Linked DNA regions of Homo sapiens. The protein of the gene in region 2 purifies or fractionates together with the protein of the main gene of each other region. This does not show direct contact. Each region holds a gene or a part of one and is shown on either strand. Other genes may lie near its edges.

The links. The genes of interacting proteins can lie anywhere in the genome.
Region 1: the proteins of C16orf46 (region 2) and FAT3 purify together in Homo sapiens (affinity purification with mass spectrometry; 2 studies listed by BioGRID and IntAct, with this or other methods). This does not show direct contact.

What each region holds. Positions count from the first base shown.
Region 1 is NC_000011.10:92,220,094-92,227,817, forward strand, and holds the start of FAT3 (protocadherin Fat 3 isoform 1 precursor), read left to right. Parts: upstream 1-4,724; 5' UTR 4,725-5,081; intron 5,082-7,724.
Region 2 is NC_000016.10:81,060,114-81,067,556, forward strand, and holds the end of C16orf46 (uncharacterized protein C16orf46), read right to left. Parts: intron 6,169-7,443; 5' UTR 6,080-6,168; intron 3,881-6,079; 5' UTR 3,843-3,880; coding exon 3,633-3,842; intron 2,026-3,632; coding exon 1,048-2,025; 3' UTR 867-1,047; downstream 1-866.

The DNA of each region.
Region 1 (7,724 bases), on a different chromosome or scaffold from region 2:
CTAAAATATAGGGACACCAATAAGAAATCATAAATTACATGTAAGATTAAAACAGAGGTTTTGAATGAAAAACTCTAATATTCCATCCTCTAGACACTTGAAGAAAAGCAGGTTTAATCAGAGGCCAAGAGGGTGGATGAAAATTTTGCTAAAGATGATAAAGTGGGATCCTGGTACTATTAATAACTTGGTACTTGATAACATTTGCCCTTATTTATAACATTATGTCAAAACATATAACAGGTGTAACACTAAATATCCTTTATGCTCATTAGTCATTGTTCGTGTTGAACTTTAGCTTGTAAATAAATTAGAGAGATGAATAAAAATTCCCCCTCATTGGAACGGCAGTGGTGCTAACTAAACCACTTGAATCATGCAGTTGTAGCCCTTCTCACTTTTGCTTTTCTTTGTTTGATCATTTGATTAATGACTTCTCCACTGGCCCAAAGATCTATAAGGGTAGATATCTCATCAGTTTTTGCTAATCATTACATCCCCGACACTTAAAAGAGAGCCAAGTACACAGCTGCTCAAAAATAATTTTTGAACAGATGAATGGGTGAGTGAATGAACAAATGAGTAAGAAAGAGAAAAAGGAGTGGCCTAAAGAACATAGAATTATAGATGTGTTAAAAATGAGTCTCTGACATTACGTTTATTCTCTGTCTAGCCAAAGAGAAGAAAGCAGTAGCCAAAACAGGGGCATAGAAGGAGTTTCCCAAAGGATAAAGACAGTTAGTAGGACAATTTGCTTGCCGAAAATAGAGTACCTCAGTGTGTCCAAGTTTGGTTTGGTTGCTGTTCCAAAATAAGAGGGATTGAAATTGATCAGCCTTAGGATAGTTGAGTGGCAAAGAAGGCCACCTGCAAGTACAATTAGTGGTATACCAAGGGTGGGCCAGTAGGAGAGATCTGCACAGCAAGCAGGCAAACGGGTGGGTGGGAGCACTATCTGTAGAGAATTTAAAAAGAAAATCAGTCTTTTTTTTTAGTATTACTTTGTAGTTGCAATTCTAAAAAATGTCAGTGATAAAATATTCCTCTGTAACAAGATCATTTTGGTCTAAGTTCTAAAAAATTCCTGTAGTTACTGTTTTGAGTTTTAATTACATATATGTAAATTCAAAATTAGCATATTTTAATTACTTACTTTTTAATAAACCTTGCAGTCTAAGTTGAAATTGATTCAGAAAACTTCTAGTTGTACAACAGGTCCCCAACACAGGTGTCCTTGGGTACACGTTTGTTTAAAAGTAAAATCCTCATAGGGCAGTTTGAAAAATCATTTGGCCGTCCCTTGACGTAAGTATTTAGCATTAGTCGTAGGTGTTTTAGCCTGAGATTGCCAGAAAATAGAGCATGATACAAGGACTTGCTGAAAATATTTTATTTGGGAAGTGTGATCCCAGGAAGCATGTGAGGAACAGATGGGGAGAACCAGGGAAGGATGGAGCGCCAGTACAAGGATGTGTTATCAAGCTGGCCATTGCTTCAGGAGAATGGCTGCTTTGTTTAGCAAAGACCACCAGAGAAGCTCCATGGAACACATTTCTGAATCCTTTCCTTGCAGATGGAAAGAGGAGTATTTATCCATGGGCTCCCACCATAGGCTCTTTAATCTCTCATGCTTCTAGGTTTTGGTTCACATTGTAACTTCAACTAAAAAGCCCTGGGTGGGGGTAAGATGCAAGGGGAGCCCAGAGCAAAGCACTTTCAGATTATACCTGTGTGAAGCTGGTTAGAGCCCACTTAGAACTGGCTGTTCCTGTGGTGGCTAAAAGCAACAGGTAAGGCCCAGATGATCTGAAGTGGTGTATGGAGGCTGTGATACATGGCAAGTAATATGATTTTATTATAGATCTGCAATTTTTTATAGGTTCCTTTCCTATGAGGACTTCAATGTCCTACATACAATAATCATTGGGTCTGATAAAAAAATTCCCAAGTTTTCACCATTTGTTAATTATTTGAATATTTATTGAATATGTACTAATATTTATTGAGTGTGCCAGGCTTTATGCAGGGATAGAAATGTAAATATGACAGATTCTTGACTTTCATAAAGCTCACTGTTTTATCAACTCTATGCCTTCCACTGTAGTGACACAGTGGCACCCCTCCCCCGAGCCACATCACCTTTTTTTAAAGAAAGAGTCTTAATCCATCAGCCATGCTGGAGTGTAATGCGGCAATCATAGCTCACTGTAACCTGAAACTCCTGGGCTCAAGTGATTCTCCTGCTTCAGCCTCCCAAGTAGCTGAGTCTAAAGACATGAGACACTATATGTAGACACTACACTGGCCTAATTTTAATTTTTGAGGAGGTGGAGTCTTGATATGTTGCCTAGGCTGGTCTTGAACTCCTGACCCCAAGTGGTCATCCAGACTTGGCCTCCCAAAGTGCTAGGATTCCAGGCATGAGCCACTGTGTCTGGCTGGCACTTTAAAAAAAAAAATACAGTCCCCTTATACAATCAGAATTATTAGCACAATGAATAGTAAATGCTATGCAAATCTAAAATGACCAGAGGAGTGTCCCATTAGATAAACCACTCTACTATTTTTGCAGGAAGTCTCTTACCCACAGGCTATAATGGCTTATGTCAGCCCTGGGAGTAGAGACTGTTTACTTTATTATGTATGTACTGCCTAGGGATGGGGAGGCTGAAATTTAGACAGATTTCTCTACTTATCTCTAAGGCACCTCTGAGGCATTAAAGAACATTTGGGGAAGCTGAAATCCAGGAGCTACACCAGCAGCAGAAGTGGCCACTCCTCCAATCACCTGGCAGTCTTCCCAGGCAGAAGGTAGAAGATGCCTGGCCTCCTTGCCAGCACTCCTTCCTTGAGCATCCCAGTGGCCAAACCACCACCAGCCGACTCTACCCAAAGTGCCTGGTTGCAGGAGCCAGGCACTCAGGTGGGAAATACCTTGATTCTTTAAAACCTTTGATGCAAAGTTAGCTGCATTCTGTCACAAGGAAAATGCCATGCCAGGGACATATTTATATGACAATAAACTTTTAGTGCCTTAGAAAGTTGCTGAATAAAACTAAAATCAGAATAAAATTAATCAGATGCTAACATTTTGGAGAGCAGGTAAGTTTTCCTAGCTCTGTTAGTGGTTTCCTTCACTCCAGACCTATCTTCTGGCCTTCCGTGACAATGAAGCCCTTGGTAACATCATGCTTATTACCCCCGAATTAGCTGATGTATGAGGAGCTGTCACCGTTCCTTAGTATTCACATTAAAATCTCAGGGCGGAATGACCAGAGCATGCCGGGTGCTTTATGTGGCAGTCAAGGCAGCGAGGCTGCTGGAGGCTTTCAAGGGGAACTTTCCACCCGTGGGGCGTGGCGAGGCCTTTGTGTAACTGTGAACAGGGCAGAGGTCCCAGGCTGGGAGCGCGAAGGCCAGAAAGGTAAACTCAATCGGCATTTTAAAGCGCTTGCTCTAGTGATTGAGCACATAGCCCTCTAGAAGCAGCCCTACTTCGCCCTCCAAAGAGAATTTCGTGTTTCAAAAAAAAGTAACGATTTCCTCTGGGGAAGAGATCTGCAGTCCTGGGGTCCCTTTCTCCTGGTGCCAATGGTAGAGTTGGGGAGAAAGTTCCCGATAGAGAGCATAGGAGGAAATGCGCCAGCTGTGCTTGCCTTAGAGACATATGTGAGTTGAGCTCTCTCTCTCCTCTCTCTCTCTCTCTCTCTCTCTGTGTGTGTGTGTGTGTGTGTGTGTGTGTGTGTGTGTGTGTGTAGGTGGCGAGTGGAGAGGGTTAAGGCTGCTTCTTTGCTGGGGGGAAAAGAAAGGCAAAAGTGTGAGGATACACAGAGCAGGGAACGAGTGGAGTCCCCTCTCCACCGGGGCAGTGTGAGAACGGAGGGCGTGCAGTCAGGGGGTCCTAGGACTTGGGTGGGTGCTGCAGAAGTGACCAGGAGGGCTGACAGGGTGGAGATGCAATCATCAAGCTCCAAATCAATCATCCACCCCTTCAGAGTCCCTGTCCTCCATTAAGACAAAAAAATGTTTAAAACATATTGGGGGCAGAGGAAGAGTGAAGAGATTGGACCACGTTAGCTGCTTAGTCTAGTTCCCTCCTCCACAAGGCAATCGGATGACCCCAGGATCTCAATGTTTAGGAAAGTCGTAGGAGCCCTCACTGGGAGGCACATTTTTAGTCCAGAGGCACGACATTTGATGGTTTAATCTTCACACTACAAACTAGCCTTGGGACGTTATATAAACCATGTTAACCTCGATGTGCCTCAGTTTCCTCTTTGTCCCAGGAGAGTAACGCGTTCTCTGTCTTCACAGGGATGTGGTGCGGGTGAGACTCAATGCACTGTGCGAAAGCTCTCCCAAGCCAGCAAGCACCACGCTCTCCCCGCGGCAGGAAAGTACGTTGGTGTCATCCTAGAGCCCCAGAGGGCTGAGGGAAGACTCGAGCTCTAAAATTAGCCGCTTCCAGGCCCGGCGCCGGGAATGCCCTCCAGTTCGCCGCGCCTCCTCCGCCGCCCCCTCCCGCGCGCCCCCTCTCCCCTGCGCCACGCTCCTAGATCGCTAGTCATCCCCGCCGCCGAGGCTCCTCTCCCCCTCGCCCTTTTCGCTCGCGGTTTGGGAGGAGGAGACTGCGAGAGACAAGCGCGAGGGGGAGACTGGAGAGGGGCTTGGCCGTGCGTCGGCGTCGGCTGTGATGGGGAGCCCGGAGCAGCCAGGCGGCGAGCAGTAGCGGCGGCGGCTGCAGCTCGGAGCAGACAGGAGAGCCGGCGCTCCTCCCCGCAGGCTGCGCTGTGAACTGGCCTGCGGATTGGGATCTCGCGCCTCCCGTCCCTCTCCTCCCGCTGCTGTTCTCTTCATCTCGGCTCCCCTCCTCCGCTTGCGAACCCCCGGCGGCGGCGGCGGCGGCGTCCCGAGCGCAGAGCGCTTCTGCTCGCGGCCTCAGTCCCGGCTAGCGCGCGGTGGGCGCTGCGGCGGCAGCAGCCGGGGGACCGGCTCGCCCGGAGCAAGAGCGCCGAGCACCGGGTGAAGAAGACCACGGGGGAGGCGCCTCGTAGAGCCGTGGATCGCCAGCGGAGGCAAGGGTGCGTGGGGATTTGTAGCGTGATGATTTGGCTGCCTGGTGCACCGACTGGAGCGCGCCTGCCGGAGCACAGCCTCAGCTGCTGGGTGCAAATGGGCTGCGAGGTGGGCTGGGGAGGCGAGAGCCGACGAAGCGCGTGGGGGAAACTTTTCACCTTGTAAAGTTCCAACCTCCGCGCAGCCCCGAGCCGCCGTTGCTACCGCTGCAAACAGGAGAAGAGGGTGGCTTGGCCCCGCGGCGGGAGCCGGGAGGTTTACACGGAGAGTTGGCCAAGTTTGGGGCTGAGGATCTGGGGAGGGGTTGCGAGGGGGGTTGCGGATCAGTGCACCCATCCCCGGCTCCCAGCCGCCCCTGCAGGTGGATGAGAAGGTTCAGGTGGCGAGCCTGCTTGGCAGCCGGTGCCTCTCGGGCGCAGTGGGGGATGTTCAGATGCCGATGGATGATGCACTTAGGGGACCCCGAGGTGCAAGTTGGGTCATCGCTAGGCGAGGCGCGGCGCAGAGAGGGAGCCCAGCCTCCACTTTCGCTAGGAAAGGGAAAGGGTTACCAGTCTGCGGGTCCGTTCCCCACGCCTGACTCGGGCTTGCGGGGCTTGTGGTCAGGGTGAGATGTAGTGAACGGCGGCGGCGGCTCTTCGACTGGGGACGACATCCTTTACGGAGTGGTTGGGGACAGAGACTGTCCCTGCTATCTTGACAAGGAGAGGGAACCGGAATGCTTTGCGAGAGTGCATGATTTTTGGCGGGCGTGTGGGAAGGCTGCTTGTCTTTGAAAAGAAAGCAGCGCGGGTCTGACCATCCCCAGGAGTGCGGAGGAGCTGTCTCCGGATTGGGGGCGAGAACGCCAGGGGCACCAGCTCCGAGCTCAGGCCCCACTCCCGGGCGGTTCGGGACGAATCCCCTCTACAGGCCAGTGTGTGTGCAGGGCAAGTGTAGGGGGCTGAGGGGCGCTGGCGGGGAGGCAGTAGAGGTGGCCTGGACCATCTTGGCGCGGCGCGCGGTGAGCGCGAGGATTCCGCCAGTGGGAGTCGCTGAGCTAAAGTGCATCTGGCCCCCCGGCTTGCATGATGGCGAGCCCGGATATTTTTAGCTGTGCTGTGATCTGAATTCCCTCCTCTCCTCTCTCGTTGACTTTTGTCACATGTGCTTTCCGAGATGGTTTAACATTGAACATGATTGGGCTTTGCGGAAAGCAACTTTTATTCACTTTCCACCGTTCTCCTCTTGTGGGCGGGGGGTGGCGGGGGCGTGCTTGGGGCAAGGATGCAGGGGTGGCCGGAGTTTGGCTGCGAGCTAAGAGAGCCGCTTGGGTTGCTCGGGATGAGAGGAACAGGGGTGCTCCCGGGGTGTGGGTGTGCTGGCGGTGACATCCTGAGGCTGCAGCTCGCTGGAATAATGGGCTCAAACCAGGCGGTGGAGAGGGGTCCCCGGAATGGACGTCGGGGGCGGGGAGGCTGCGGAGACCCTGCGAGGTCTCCGTGAAGGACTAGGAGGGGCTCCCGGGAGGGAGTGGCGCCTGCGGCCCGGAGCGTGGGCGGCCGGTGGCTCTGGCACGCGGAATCTGGTGGACTCCTAGCGCCTCGGCCGGGAGCTCCAGCTCCATCCCGCCGCCGCCGCGCGCCCAATGGGACTCAGCTTCGGGTTTGGGCGAACCTGCAGCAGCCGCGGCGGGAGGGAGGGACGCTGGGACCGCGGTAATGATTGAAGTCTTTTTCCCCCCTCTCCCCTCCTCCCGCTCCTCTCCGCCCCCAGACTCTGGCGCGTTTGTTTTCCAAGTTGGATCCCACTTCCATTTACAAGTGTCAGACAAACCCGCGAGAACCTCCCCCAACCCGCCCCGGCCCCAGCCAGACTAGGGAGGGCGCCCAGGGGGAGGGGGCGAGCTGTCTGGGCAGTGCCTGGGGAGGTGCGACGCGCCCACCCGGGGCTTGAGCGGCTGGGGTTCCTGTGCGTGGGTCCTTAATGTTTAAAAGATACACATGAACAGCAACAAAACCCAAACCACTCGTGGCCACTTGTTTTCTGCCGCTTTTCTCCCACTTGCCTCGGACATATTAATTTTCTGGCCCCGACGCTAGTCTTTTCAAAGGCGAGTCCGGGGTAGTGGGAGGAAGGGGCGGGGGAGCAGGCCTACCAGTTCATCACGGTGGATTTGTGCTCCTGGCTTTGTTGCTAGGATTAGATTCTCTGATTGTGCCCAGGCTAAGTTAAAATAAAAGCAGAGAGACAGAGAAGCGGCCAGAAAGACTGCAGACGACTTTGCCTGGATCCAGGCGGCAAACTCAGGTGGTGGAAAGGGGAAGCCCGCCATCTAGGAATTGAGGACCGAGGTGCCCACATCTCAGTATCGATCAAACAGAGCCCAGATTTCTTCTCCACCAGCAGACACTGAACTTCTCTTCACATTTACTGAATGCTTGAATGATGTTCTGGTGTGACGTGGAGATTTGAATCTGAGAAGGAAAGGAAGGGAGGAGGGGATGGAGGAGAGAAGAGAGAAGAGATTTGAGAGACTGAGATTCTTCAGAATCCTAGAAATTGCACAAAGCCAACTGCTTCTGCTTTTTTTCTTTCTTCTTCTTTTTTTTTTTTTTCTTTATTCCTAAATTGGAGCAATTGAACAGTGAGAGAATAAGGAACAGCCA
Region 2 (7,443 bases):
TTCCCAGGCTGGATTTTGTAGCACTGTAGCTAAAACTTCCAGACACAGAGATTAGTATGAGGGTACAATCTGAGGACATGGCACCCTGAAAATGCAGGAGACGATAGTGTATATACATGGAAACAATCTGAGGGTGTGACACCCTGGACGCACAGGGTCTCCAATGCCTTGGACGTCCTGGACACAAGCTGGAGTTTTCTTTTCTTTCTTTTGAGGCGGAGTTTCGCTCTTATTGCCCAGGCTGGAGTACAATGGCACGATCTCGGCTCACCACAAACTCTGCCTCCCGGGTTCAAGCGATTCTCCTGCCTCAGCCTTCTGAGTAGCCGGGATTACAGGCATGCGCCACCATGCCCGGCTAATTTTGTATTACTTTAGTAGAGACAGGGTTTCTCCATGTTGGTCAGGCTGGTCTCGAACTCCCAACCTCAGGTGATCCACCTGCCTTGGCCTCCCAAAGTGCTGAGATTAGAGGCGTAAGCCACTGTGCCCGGCCTGGAGTTTTTTATTAAAGCAATTCTTCAGATCTTTGTTGCAACAGCAAATGAGGCAGCACATAGACACCTGCTTCGTTCAAAAAATCAGCAGGCAGTTTGGTCTAAACCAGCCCAGTATACTTAGTTTGAGGCACGGGGGTGGGGCAGAAAGGACACCTGCCAGATGGCTCTGGGCTGACGTGCGGCCAGCATGGAGGGAAGGAGGCCCTTTGGATTCCCCACTTTCTGCGTGGCTTCTGCTGGGAGTGGACATGAAGCAGGCAGAGGCTGGGGCTGGCAAGACCAATTGGCATTTTGTGAATGGCTAAGTAGCAGAAGCACGTTAACACATGAATATGGTGTTTTAGAAAATAAATCCCAACAATCCACTGAGGTTCAGTTTTCTTCAGTTGTACTACAAAAAAAAAATGGAGGAAAAGAAGAGTAAAGACAGACTGACGGGGAGGAGAGAAAGAGAGAGTGGGGGGTGGGTGGGAAATGAGAGAGAAGAAAGAGAAAGGATGGCTGCATCTCAAACGGTGCTTATTCCCAGGGGTTCTACCGCAACCGCTCAGAGGATCCTGTGGGTAGAGACAGGAATGATAACTCTGCTCACTGTGAGAGACGGCAAGACAGGTCTTGGGAAAACTTTGGTCTCCAGCATTTGGGGCCTGTTTTCCTGCTTGGCCTTTGGGAGAACATGCTTTCGGGTGATCACAGGAGATCTTGGCTCCTTGGCTTTGAATTTGGATTTGTAGCTTTGCACTCCCCGTTTCTGCAGAAGCTGCAAGGCAGCAAGGTAGCGAACGTTGCTGGGGTCTGGAGGGCACGCCAGGTTTTTCTCAGACAGGAGGGACCAATGCAGGCAGCGCTGCTCCGGATCGGTCAGCAGGGATATCTGGGCCGCTGGGGAAGGGGAGGATGGCGTGTCGTTGACCATAGGGTGTTTGGCCAGCTCACTGGCTCTTTTTTCACCTTTCCCATCTGCTGTTTTCAAGCCATATGCATAAGCCACACACCCATCCTTTTCCACATCCAGCACCTTCTCTTCTGACTGCAAGAAAGAGTTCTTACTCTTCTTACCCAGAACATCCAAAGCATTTGAAAGTGAAGCCTTCAGGGGAGGCAGAACTAGGAGGGCCCTGGAAGTCAGGGGGCCTGGGATGGACAGCCCTCTGTGGGCCCCTCCACTGGGATTCCCAGAGGCCTTGCCCCTATTAGTGCCGGGGATGGCCCAGTCTTTGTTGCACCAAATAAACTCCTTGATTTGCAGACTTTTTTTCTCTGCTCGAAAGTAGGTGGGAAAGCAGATGTCGCTAATTGCCCTGGAAGCAGTGCTGGGGCCCTGGGGGGCTGCCTGAGTCTGGGAGGGGCTGCTCTGATCCTTCTCTGGGCCCCCCTCAGTAGGAGGCTTGGTCTGGAGGCTCCAGTGGGAGAGGTTAACACACACCAAGCAGTCGCTGCAGGCACCTTCCCCTACCCTCGCCTTTTTTGGTATCTTCCTCGGCCAGATGCAGGCAGCTGGAGAAGTCCTTCCCCACCCTTGGACCTGCAAATAAAGCGGCATGTTACTCCTCCAGCTGAGGGGCCCAAACTGTCCTTGCCCCAATTTTGGCCACATTCCCATTTTGGCAGTCTTATGTGAAACAATATTCTTATTTTTATTTATTTTTTTACTACCCCTTCCCCCACTAATAATTTTCTTAAAATTCATTCACTTAAAAAAAAAATCCTTCAAAGTTGCAAAGCATGAAAAAGTGTAATACCTACTTTCACCGCTATAAAGCAATAACAGTATTTGTAATAGTATTTGTTAATCCTAAATACTAGCAAGAGCATTTGTTAATACTAAAACACTAAGCAACAGTATTTGTAAATGGCCACTTTGATGTGCTGACTATATTTCTTTTCAAATGCACATTTAAATTTGAAGCCATTAAAATAAAATGAAAACCGTTCATACTTGTCCCACCAACAAGGATTTCGGGCACCGCCAGTCTCTGCTTCCCTTACCTGGGGAACACTGTTGCTTGGAGAGGCTGGAGGGAGACCGAGGAGCAGAGGCAGGTCCTGGAATGCAGAGGAGCCCTGCGTACCCAGGGATACCTACTCCCCATACACGCCCAGAGTCCTCTGGCTGATCTTGCCACAGAGATCACCATTAAAAAAGGGTTGCCAGTAAAAATATAGGACCACATTTTGGACATACTTATACTGATAAATTAGGTATTTATCTGGTAATCCTATGTTTAATCACTGGATTAGACCAAGTTTTCTCATAGTTTTATGCTTTTTTTTTTTTTTTAGTTTTCTTATAGTTTTAAATATAGGATTCTATTGTTGATTCTATGAATTGTTTAAGAGTAAGCCTGCAGACCAGGCGCAGTGGCTCAGGCCTGTAATCCCAGCACTTTGGGAGGCTGAGGTGGGCAGATCACCTAAGGTCAAGAGTTTGACACCAGCCTGGCCAATATGGTGAAACCCCGTCTCTACTAAAAATACAAAAATTAGCTGGGCATGGTGGGCACCTATAATCCCAGCTACTCAGGAGGCTGAGGCAGGAGAATCGCTTGAACTCAGGAGGCAGAGGTTGCAGTGAGCCAAGATCGCGCCACTGCACTCCAGCCTGGGCGACAGAAAGAGACTCCATCTCAGGGAAAAAAAAAAAAAAAAAAAAAACCCACAGAGTTCTGAGTAGAGCCATTAGGAAAGAAGCCTCAGTTCTCTCAGGGAGTTCAGCACAGCTGCTAAGGAGCTCAGGGTTCTAGAGTCCAGGAGACCTGGATTCAAGCCCTGCCTTGGCCACTTATTGGCTGGGTGATCTCGAGCATGTAACTTTATCTTCCAAGTGACTCAGTATACTCATCCACAAAGCGAGGCTGGGAAGAAAACTTGCCCCATATGGCTATTGAGAGGTTAGATGAATTAATGTATCCAAAGTACTTAGTACTGTGCTGTCCACATACTAAGTGGCCATAAATACCCACAGTAGGTGCTGCTCTTATCATCAGTAATATTTTACCTCAATTCCAGGGTTTCTACATGTCATTGATTCCACATTTTTTGGTAATATTAACTATTTTTGGGAAAAAGAGGCTTGCACCAAAACACTGATGTGCGAGAGACAGAAAAGCTGTGACTCAGAAAGATACTCACTGCCTCTTCCCATCCAGTTCCAATAATAAACTCTTTGGCTTTTTCATCTTGTTCAAGCGTAATGTCACTGACATCGAGAAGACAATAAACATGATTTTTTTCACTTTTTCCATCTGGACAAGTATAGGTTGGTTCTGTTTCTTCTGTGAACTGAATTTCATTATTTTCAGCATTTTCTAAGTCAGTCTCATTTTTCTGACAGAGATCCATTACTGTGATGCTTGCTTAAAGTTTTTAACATCTTCTTGCTGTTTAAAAACATGAATGGAACTTCGTTTTTAATATTAATTTTTTTTTAAAAAAAGCAATGCAATACTCAGGTGAAATATCTTCAAGACACATTCAGGAATATGGCCGGCCGCGGTGGCTCATGCCTGTAATTCCAGGAATTACTTTGAGAGGCCAAGTCAGGCGGATCACTTGAGGTCAGGAGTTTGTGACCAGTCTGGCCAACATGGTGAAAGCCAGTCTCTACTAAAAATAAGGCGGGCACCTGTAATCCCAGCTACTCGGGAGGCTGAGGCAGGAGAATCACTTGAACCCAGGAAGCAGAGGTTTCAGTGAGCTGAGATTGGCCACTGCACTCCAGCCTGGGTTAGAGAGTGAGATTACATCTCAAAAAAAAAAAAGAAAAGAAAGAAAGAAACATTCAGGAATAGACTGAGAACAAATATTACGCAACTATCCACTGCCAACCACTGGCACTATGAAAGATAAGGCAGCCAGGAGTGATGGCTCACACTTGTATTCTCAGCACGTTGGGATGCTGAGGCTGATGGATCACCTGAGGTCAGGAGTTCGAGGACAGCCTGGCCAACATGGCGAAACCCCATCTCTACCAAAAATACAAAATTAGCTGGGTGTGGTGCTGCGCACCTGTAATCCCAGCTACTTGGGAGGCTGAGGCAGGAGAATCACTTGAATCCGGGAGGTGGAGGTTGCAGTGAGCCAAGATCACGCTATTGCACTCCAGCCTGGGCAACAGAGCAAGACTCTGTCTCAAAAAAAAAAAAAAAAAGAAGATATGAAGAGACATAGGGAGAAGATGGCCATCTACAAGCCAAAGACAGCAGCCTGGAACAGAGCCTCCTCTCACAACCCTCAGAAGGAACAAACCCTGCCAAAACTTTGATTTTGGACTTTGAGAATCCAGACCTATGAGGTAATACATTTCTGTTGTTTAAGCCACTCAGTCTGTCGTACATTGTCATGACGCCCCTAGCAAAGTAAAACAGTAGGTGATGGTGATAACCCTATCTACCATTAATGGATGTTTTTCTGGAAAATGCACTTGGCATTTAGAATCTAGACAAAGGGTCTGCAAAGTTGTAATCCTGATCAGAGCCAAAGAGCTGAACAGTTCCAGTCCTATTTACCGGCTGTGTCCCTTGAGCGATGACTTACTTTTCTGGGTCTGTTTGCTCATCTATAAAAAGGGCTAAAGCGGCTGCATGCGATGGCTCACGCCTGTAATCCCAGTACTTTGGGATGCCGAGCTGGGTGGATCATTTGAGGTTAGGTGTTGAGACCAGCCTGACCAACATGGTGAAACCCTATCTCTACTAAAAATACAAAAAAGTTAGCCAGGTGTGGTGGTGCACACCTGTAGTCCCGGCTACTCAGGAGGCTGTGGCAGGAGAATAGCTTGAACTTGGGAGGCAGAGGTTGCAGTGAGCCAAGATCGTGCCACTGCACTCCAGCCTGGGCGACAGAGTAAGAATCCGTCTCAAAAAAAAAAAAAAAAAAAAAGCAAAAGCATGATACCTTCCTACAGATAGGGGTTCCTCCTGTGGACCCCACAGGCTGCAGAAATTAACTAGAATACCTGAGCAGTGACCACCAAAGCTCTGGCTTGAGTGCTGATAAGCACCCAGTGTCTTCTCAAGAAGTTCCTTGCTTGTGATAAGACAGGAGGCACAGGGGACACCCACTCCTTGCTTTCTCTCAGCCAGACGTGACCCATGCCAGAAAACTAGTTTTTTTCATTTTTTGTTTAGGAAGAGATCGGTACTTCTTATGACAAATCTGTTGAATTACCAATTTGGCTTTTTCACATAGGCTTAGTTTTTTTATTTTGTTTTGTTTTGTTTTGTTTTGTTTTGTTTTGTTTTTGAGACAGAGTCTCACTCTGTTGCCCATGCTGGAGTGCAGTGGTGCGATCTTAGCTCACTGACAAAATTTACTGGAGTAAATTTTGTAAAATTTTAAGTTGGAAGTTGTACCTCCGCTTCCCAGGTTCAAGCAATTCTCCTGCCTCAGCCTCCCGAGTAGCTGGGATTACGGGCGTGAGTCACCGTGCCTGGCCAACACTACATTTTTATAAGCACTTTACTTATGTAATGAGGGTTCACAAGGAACTGTATTGATTCCTTGTGACTCAAAACTAAGAATCATCCCTGAGTCAATTAACACAGTATTATTAATCAGAAGGTCAGATTACTGCATACCAGATCACCAGATGCACCTTCGGAACACTGGTGTACTTCAGGCAGGATCAACACGCTCCGCTACTAAAAGAGAATATTGGGGTCTTTTCCTAATTAAAAAGAAATTCAGTTAGTGGATAGGAAAGTTGTATTTTAAGTTTCCCTTCTCTAAACATACTATCAAGTTGTTGTCTGTCTCGCTCCGTCGCCCAGGCTGGAGTGCAGTGGTGTGATCTCAACTCACTGCAACCTCTGCCTCCCGGGTTCAAGCAATTCTCCTGCCTCAACCTCCCAGGTAGCTAAGACTACAGGCGCCTGCCACCACGCCTGGCTAATTTTTTTGTAACTGTCGAGTTTTATTACCCATTCTTGTCTTCCAGCTCACGTTAGCAGATGACACACAGTAATGGCCAAGAATCAATAGATCAAAGAAAAGAGTGGATATGTGATTCCTTGCAATCTGTATGCAGTTTTACTTTTATGTTGGAATGCAGACATCTATATTCATATAATATTTTCTGGTAGTAAAATTATGCCTGACTTACACATTTGACGTAAACCAAGAGCTCATGCCATCCCATTTCTTGGCTTCCATTGAACTTTACAACCTGATTCAGTTTGAGAATCACCAGGATAAAGCATACATCAAAGTCCATACAAACGTTTTCCACCACATCAAGAAAACACAAAGATCACAGTGAAGATGTTGCCATGGAGACGCATTTGCAGATGCAACTCTAAAATTGGATTTAGAGTATAAAGCGGGAAAGCTCAAATATGTAGGCCAGAAGGTATTAAACTCTATTACACAAGCTATTAAAGTGATTAGAACCAACATGTACAAAAGAAATAGTTGACTCTGATCCAAGCCCCCAAAGTGCATGTTTGGATAAACAAGAATAAACCCAAAGAAAAACTGATCAAAGAACTTAAGATATTTGGAAACGAAAGAAAGATGGTGAATGAGAGCCTAAAAAATATAGCCTATGGAAATTTACCATAATCCAGAAAATACCTTTTCTAGTAGCATTTAAAGACAGATACAAAAAGGAAATGATCAGCCAAAGAAATGTAAAGTGGTTTATTTTCTTTTACCAATAACATGTTTTGCTTCAAAATAATGTGAGGTTGAGGTTAGGGAGGGAATAGTGAAACCAAAGTGCCCTTAAGTTCTGTTTGTTGTAGATGGGTATGAGGACATGGGGATTAACTGTACTATTATATTTTTATGTAAGCATGAAACTTCCTGTAATAAAACTTTTAAAGCCATGATGTTATCGGAGAGCTCCAAGAAATGAAATGTGGAATAATGATAGAAGCCAGGGTACAATGAATTTTGACCTTAAGCAAACTGAAATAAATGTTGTTTTTTGTTTGTTTGTTTT